Homo sapiens: one gene and its partner. The protein of the gene in region 2 interacts with the protein of the main gene of each other region in a pairwise test. Each region holds a gene or a part of one and is shown on either strand. Other genes may lie near its edges.

Region 1 (3,747 bases), on a different chromosome or scaffold from region 2:
GCCAGGCCACACCACTTACATCCCCTCCACCCACTCCACTGCCCAAGCAGGCAGGCTGACAGCACCCCTCCAGGAGGGTCTGAGCCGCAGCTGGTGTGGGGTGGAAGGTGGGGAGGGTGGGTGCACCTGGTTCTGCAATCTGAGGGGTTGGCAGCCCTCAGTATTTTTTAAATCAGTTACTGTTCTATTAAAATAATCACGATTTGGAGCTGCTTTTGACAGACTGGAAGACCCAGCCATGCTGGGCTCCTCACACAGGGCAACAGTTAGCTAGGGCTGAGAAGCAGCTGCGTCCTTCAAGACTAAGTGGTCTTCAGTTCTCCTCAGACCCCACCCTTCCCTACTGTATCCCCCCACCCCAACCTGACCTGCCTGGCTCCTGAGGGCAGGATCAGCCCTGAACCAGATGTTGAACTAAATGTGCTTAAGGCTCATGCCTCAGGAGAAGCTGGGACCACAGGGAACAGAGGGCTGGACAGGCAGGGGGAGTCAGAGGCAAGCCTGTGCGGTAGATAAGAGGCTTGAACCCACCTCAGTGGGCACCCTCTCCCTTCCACAGCCAACGGGGCAAGGGGCAGCCCTTGGAACCTCCAACCCAGTGGCAAAGATGTAGAGTTGGGATGGAGTGTGGAGTAGCTCCTCCCAGGGCCAAGTGTAGGGGGTGGAGGGCAGAGACTGTCAGTAGTGGCCTGACCACACACTGGGAAGAGAAGGAGCTAAGGAGGTCGCTGGGACAGAAGGAGTGGGTGCTAAGGAGCCCGAAACTGGGTCCTGGGACAGCCAGAGAGAGAGAGGGCTTGCATGCTTTCTGTGCCTCAGAGCTGTCCTGGCTGGCGGCTGGGTGGGGCAGGGAGAGGAGAGAGGAGGGCAGGGGAGGGACTGCCCAGCTGGAAGAGGCCTTGTCTAATTGTGCCTGATTAGTAGAGAGGAAGAGAACAGGGCGAGTGATTAATAGTCATGGCAGTCACCAGCATGTGGAGAAGGAGGGTCGGGAGGGGGAGGGAGACCGGAGAGCCCATAGGGGATGGAGATAGTGAGGCGCCCACAGGGCCCCAGGCTCCTGGCCCCCCGGGGCTGCCTGGACCCTTGAGGACCCTGAGGAGTGGGGCTGGCTCCTACCCATGCCTCCTCAGGGTTTCTTCGCCTCCCCCAGCCTCAATTTTCCAGACAGTAGCGTGGAAAAGACCAAGGTCATGTCCTGCACCTGGGAAGAAAGCACCTTTGCTCACGTGGTGTCTCCAGACACCCCACTGCCCCCAGCCCCCAGCCCCCAGACACAGGCCCTATCCTCAGCTCCACCTGAGATCACAGCCCACAGAGTAGATGGCCCGACTTCCAGTCACAGCCCGCAGCTACCCTTTATATCCTGTGGTCCCAGTTGTAATCCCAGCCCTGCCCTACCCAGACAATCTCATTCCTAGGGCCATCCAGAGCTGCGCTGTCCAACACGGCAGCCTATAGCCACGTATGGCTATTTGAATGTAAAATTCATTTTCTCTGTCGCACTAATCGCATTTCAAGTGCTCAACAGCCACATGTGGCTAGTGACTACCAAGTTGGACAAGCACAGGTGCAGAGCGTGTCCATCACCACAGAATGTTCTATTGGCAGCACTGATCTAGACAGTGTGTGCGCACTCCTGCACCTATGCACACGTGCATGCATATTTTGGAGGGCTGGATAGAATGGAAATGCTAGTACAGGGCAGAGGAGGGTGTGGGCCAGAGGGTCAAAAGCGGGGCGATGACTAGGTAATGGAGAGTAATGAAGATGCCAGCACATGGGTCGGAAACCAGTAGGTGGTGCTGACAACAGTCAGGTTAAAGATAGCCAGCAGTTGGGGTGGCGGCATTTATAACAGCTGACGCTTACACAGAGTATACGATGTGTGTGCCAGGTAGTGTGCTAAGCTCTTTAGGAGCATCTCTTTAATCCTCACAACAACCCCCAATTTTTAGGTTCTAATATCCTATTTAAAGAATACACCCAGCACTTTGGGAGGCCAAGGCGGGCGGATCACGAGGTCAGGAGATCGAGACCATCCTGGCTAACACAGTGAAACCCCATCTGTACTAAAATTACAAAAAATTAGCCGGGCGAGGTGGCGGGCACCTGTAGTCCCAGCTACTCAGGAGGCTGAGGCAAGAGAATGGCATGAACCCCGGGGGGCGGAGCCTGTAGTGAGCCGAGATCGCGCCGCTGCACTCCAGCCTGGGCAACAACGAGACTCTGTCTCAAAAAAACAAACAAAAAAAAGAATACACAAACCGATGCTCACAGAAGCTTTTTGGCTTCCCCACGGCCACACAGCTTAATGCGTAGAGCCGAGGTTCGAATCCTGGTGGTCCCCAGGTGAGAGGAGATGCTGAATTTTAGAGCCACCCTTGCATTTTACAGCTCAAGAAATGAAGCCTAGGGAGAAAGAGTGATTTCTGCCTTTTAGTAAGAGGGCAGGCTGAGAGCAGGCCGCAGTGGGGAAGGTAGAACTGGGGCTTGGAGGAAGGGGGTGTGGGTAGCAGATGGCGGCAGGAATCAGGGAGGAAGGGAGAGCTGTCTACAAGGCTGGGGGTGGGGGACATACAGGTGGTAGAATGGGCGGGAGTGAGATGGTATGAGACTGAGTGAAGAGGGGAGGGAGAAGAGAGGAGCAGAGGTAAACTAGCTGGAGCTAGCCACCATGCAGAGCAAACATACGGGGCCCACCTCCCAGGGCCCTCTCCTCTTTCCTCTCTTCCCTCTTCTCCAAACTGCCCAGCCTGCCTCATCCCCTAGGCCCTCCCAGCTCTCCTCCACCCAGAATGGCCTCTCCTTCTCTGAACTCGACCTCTTACTACCCATGCACCTCGTCTGGCAATTGATCCTGGCACCTTATGACACCACTTGCATGGCTGATTAACTCTTGCATGGTTGCTTAAACTTCTGAGTGTCCCTGTCCCCACTCTACGAGACTATAGGCTGCTTGAGGACAGGGACTGGGGACAGGGCTTCCCATCTTTGCTGTCCTCCACAGCTCTGAGCAGGGAGCCCAACACATAGTAGGCACCCAGAACTCCATGTTGATTGATTGACTGACTGATTGGGAGTGCATGAAGGGATATTAGGGAGCGTGGGGGGAGAGCGATTGCAGTGGTAACAGAAGCAAGAGCAGCAGCAGAGGGGACTGGGGGAGGGCACATTACCCGGAGTAAAAATAGGCTGGAAAATGTGACATTTATTAACTTGGATTCCAGAGGAAAGGTCACAGCAGAGTGGGGAGTGGGAAGGAGGAAACAGGGAAAGCAACAGAAAACACATAACAGCCCCTTGGTGAAGCCTGTCCCTGTCTCTGACCATCTCACCACCCATACCCCGGCAGGCTCCCCACCAACCAGCTCACATACCCATCTCCCCACCATAGACCCCAAATCCCCATCATTGACTCCAGGTCCTCACCACAGAGCTGATTATGGACCTCACGTCCTTTTTGGAGACCCCATATCTTCATCTCCATGCCCATTCTCCAGTCTTTCCCCTGTAATACACCCCATCTTCCCCACTACCATGGATCATGGGCCCCCAGCCCAATCTGTAATTCCAGACCCTGGTGAATCTGCAGCAGACTCAGCCCTTGAATGCCAGACCCAAGACAGAGTTACACTCAGCAGACGGGGGATGCAGTATGTGCAGAAGAGTAGGAGGCTGGGCTGGAGACAGGGGAAATGGAAATCCCAAAGGGGAATTCCTGTCCCCCAATGCTAGCTATGCCCT
Region 2 (3,747 bases):
CGCCTGTAATCCCAGCACTTTGGGAGGCCGAGGCGGGCGGATCACGAGGTCAGGTGATCGAGACCATCCTGGCTAACACGGTGAAACCCCGTCTCTACTAAAAAATACAAAAAAATTAGCCAGGTGTGGTGGCGGGCGCCTGTAGTCCCAGCTACTCGGGAGGCTGAGGCAGGGGAATGGCGTGAACCTGGGAGGCAGAGCTTGCAGTGAACCGAGATCAAGTCATTGCACTCCAGCCTGGGAGACAGAGCGAGAGAGCGAGACTCTGTCTCAAAAAAAAAAAAAACAAAAAACTTTATCATTATCAAGTAAGACCAGAAAACAACATTCTTAGACCACAGTGGCTTATCTCCCTTTACAAATGCCTCAACTATCAGTCAATATAAAAAATACCCACAAAATTGTTATATTGTCCATGATGTTACTCGATATCACTATTTAGAGGTCTCACCCATAAAATTCTTAGGATTTTTTGCCTGGAAGTTTCTAAATAACTTTATGAAAATAAAAACCACATAATCGATTGCATATGCCTTTATCCCTCTGGCTGTCAGGAAGCCAAGGGATACAGTTAAAAAAATGTAACACTAGGCTGGGGCGGTGGCTCACGCCTGTAATCCCAGCACTTTAGGAGGCCGAGGTGGGCAGATCACCTGAGGTCAGGAGATCGAGACCATCCTGGCTAACATGGTGAAACCCCGTCTCTACTAAAAATACAAAAAAAAAAAAAAAATTAGCCATTAGCTGGGCGTGGTGGTGGGCGCTTATAGTCCCAGCTACTCGGGAGGCTGAGGCAGGAGAATGGCGTGAACCCGAGAGACAGAGCTTGCAGTGAACCGAGATCGCGCCACTGCACTCCAGCCTGGGAGACAGAGCTAGACTCCATCTCAAAAAAATAAATAAATAAATACATAAATAAAATAAAAAGTAACACTAAACTTTAGAAATTGTTTTATGCCAAATAGTTGCCACAATTACTGTAGTCCATGGTTCTATAAGGCTTCTGATACCTACCTTAACAAACGGTTTGTACTAGTGACTATCAAACATACTTCAAATCCTTTCTTGAAAGCAGGTGAGATACTATTTAAAAATTAAATTATCACTGCTAATTAAAACATCAAAGGGCATCTGATAAATATATAGCTTTAATAGAGTTGATTATTTTATTTTTTAAATTGTATTTATTTTTTTTGAGACGGAATCTCACTCTGTCACCCAGGCTGGAGTGCAATGGTGTGATCTCTGCTCACTGCAACCTCTGCCTCCCAGGTTCAAGTGATTCTCCTGCCTCAGCCACCCAAGTAGCTGGGACTACAGGTGTGTGCCACCACGCCTGGCTAATTTTTGTATTTTTAGTAGAGATGGGGTTTTGCCACATTGGCCAGGCTGGTCTCAAACTCCTGACCTCAGGTGATCCGCCTGCCTTGGCCTCCCAAAGTGCTGGAATTACAGGTGTGAGCCACCGCACCCAGCCAAGGTGATTATTTTTAAAATATACATATTCTAACATCACATAAGGCTTGAATAATAATTTTTTATAAATCACTTATCAAACAAAAAATAAAAATAAATAAAAATCACTTATCAGCTTACCACCCAATACAGTCGCTAGTACCATTTTTGTTATTATATCACTTAATAATCAATCAACAGCTCAGCTATTTCTCAAAGCCAAACTTTTTTTTTTTTTTTTTTTTGAGATGGAGTCTCGCTCTGTTGCCCAGGCTGGAGTGCAGTGGCAGGATCTCAGCTCACTGCAAGCTCCGCCTCCTGGGTTCACACCATTCTCCTGTCTCAGCCTCCCGAGTAGCTGGGACTACAGGCGTCTGCCACCATGCCCAGCTAATTTTTTGTATTTTTAGTAGAGACAGGGTTTCACCGTGTTAGCCAGGATGGTCTCGATCTCCTGACCTCGTGATCCACCCGCCTCGGCCTCCCAAAGTGCTGGGATTACAGACGTGAGCCACCGCACCCGGCTCAAACTTTTTAAAATTAAAAGCTACCTTCAGCATAGAAGGTGTTTGTTATAAGGCATGTATCTAATAACTTGAAAAGGTTATTTAACTGTTTAAAAAATGTGGGGCTTTTGAAAAGATCTTACAAAAATGAAATAAAAGTAGAGAAACTTAGAAAGCAAATACATAAATAAAATAAGGTGGTGCAAGTAAACTAGGTGATACTGCCTTGTTTTAATGTGTATAATTCTAATTTCACTTATTAAAACCAATCTTTCCCTATAGTAGTACTATAACATACAGACTTTGTTTGACAAAGTCTTAAAAAGTCCGTGAATTGCACTCTGATTATACAGCTTGGTTCAACAAGTCCTCTAAAAATCTTAACCTTATTCTTATGGCTTCTTCTAAGTTATGGCAGTGATCGAGAAGAATATTTGTGCCTAAAACCTGTTTGCTCCTAACATAATCTATTAAGTGGAAAAACCTAATTCAGCAATTTAGAGAGTAATACTCCTTGTTCTCTCCCTCTAGTTAATGGAGTGTTCTCCAAATGGCTTTGGGCCAATCATTCTCTCAGCTGTTTTGGTGAGGCCAGAAGACTGGCTATGTCTATCCAATGAGTGAAAAAACTAGCTTCTCTTTTCCCTTTCCTTTAAGGTCAGGCATAAGTGTATCCAATTGAAATGGAATGTCAGGAAACACCAAAAGTGAATCTAAAAGGTGGATAGTAGTCTTAAGAAAATCTGAAGAATTTAGATTATGGAGATATTGGCATGTGCAAAATACATGGGATTAACTAACCACAACCAGAAGATACAGTTCTCAGGAAAACCCTAGGCAACCAAAGTTCAAGTCTTCCTCCTCTCAGCTAGTACAGAATAACCAAATAAACCAAAGTTATTTACAAATATTGAAGAGAATAGAGTCAAAATTTTAGAATATCTAAGTTTTTAAAGCCAGGTGAGAGATCTTGTCAGCAAAAATTTAAAGGAACAATAATACCCAGAGCTGGGCAAGTTACTCTGCATCTTACTGTAGTTCTCTTCTCTGTAAAATAGGGATAGTAAGAGTTATTCCTCATAGCAGTTTTGAGGGGATTAAACACAATGTATACTAAATGCTTAGCATGGAAACTAGCACATCTTAGGCATTCACTATACATTAAATATTATAGCCGGGCACGGTAGCTCACACCTATAATCCCAGCACTTTGGGAGGCCAAGGTGTGGGGGATCACCTGAGGTCAGGAGTTTGAAACCAGCCTGGCCAACATGGTGAAACCCTGTCTCTACTAAAAATACAAAATATTAGCTGGGCGTGGTGGCACGTGCCTGTAATCCCAGCTACTCGGGAGGCTGAGGCAGGAGAACTGCTTGAACCTGGGTGGCGGAGGTTGCAGTGAGCTGAGATCGCACCACTGCACTCCTGGGCAGTAAGAGTGAAACTCCGTCTCAAAAAATAAATACATAAATAAATATTATTAATATTGTATTACTGCTGATGAGACAGATTTGTTCAACTTTTCTGGGGAATAATTTGGCAACAGGTATCAAAAGCCTGAAAAATGGTATCTACCCTTTAACTTAATAATTACCTTCCTAGGGATTTATTCTAAGGAAATAATCAGAAATGGTCAAAGATTTATGTTCATGGATTTTCATATAAAAGCATTAGATCAAAAACTGGAAATGTCCAATAAGAATTTGGTTATATAAAATTATGGCATAACCATAAGGTAAGACTATATAGCTATTTAAAATTACATGAACTAGCCCACCTCAGTGGT

What was found.
Region 1: the proteins of PRPS1 (region 2) and ASIC4 interact in binary tests that used the Homo sapiens proteins (3 or more experiments, as listed by UniProt).

The regions. Positions count from the first base shown.
Region 1 is NC_000002.12:219,517,413-219,521,159, reverse strand, and holds part of ASIC4 (acid-sensing ion channel 4), read right to left. Parts: intron 1-3,747. UniProt on the Homo sapiens protein: Does not exhibit measurable stand-alone pH-gated sodium channel activity but may form pH-gated heterotrimeric sodium channels. Its activity could also depend on alternative gating mechanisms.
Region 2 is NC_000023.11:107,631,375-107,635,121, reverse strand, and holds part of PRPS1 (ribose-phosphate pyrophosphokinase 1), read right to left. Parts: intron 1-3,747. UniProt on the Homo sapiens protein: Catalyzes the synthesis of phosphoribosylpyrophosphate (PRPP) that is essential for nucleotide synthesis.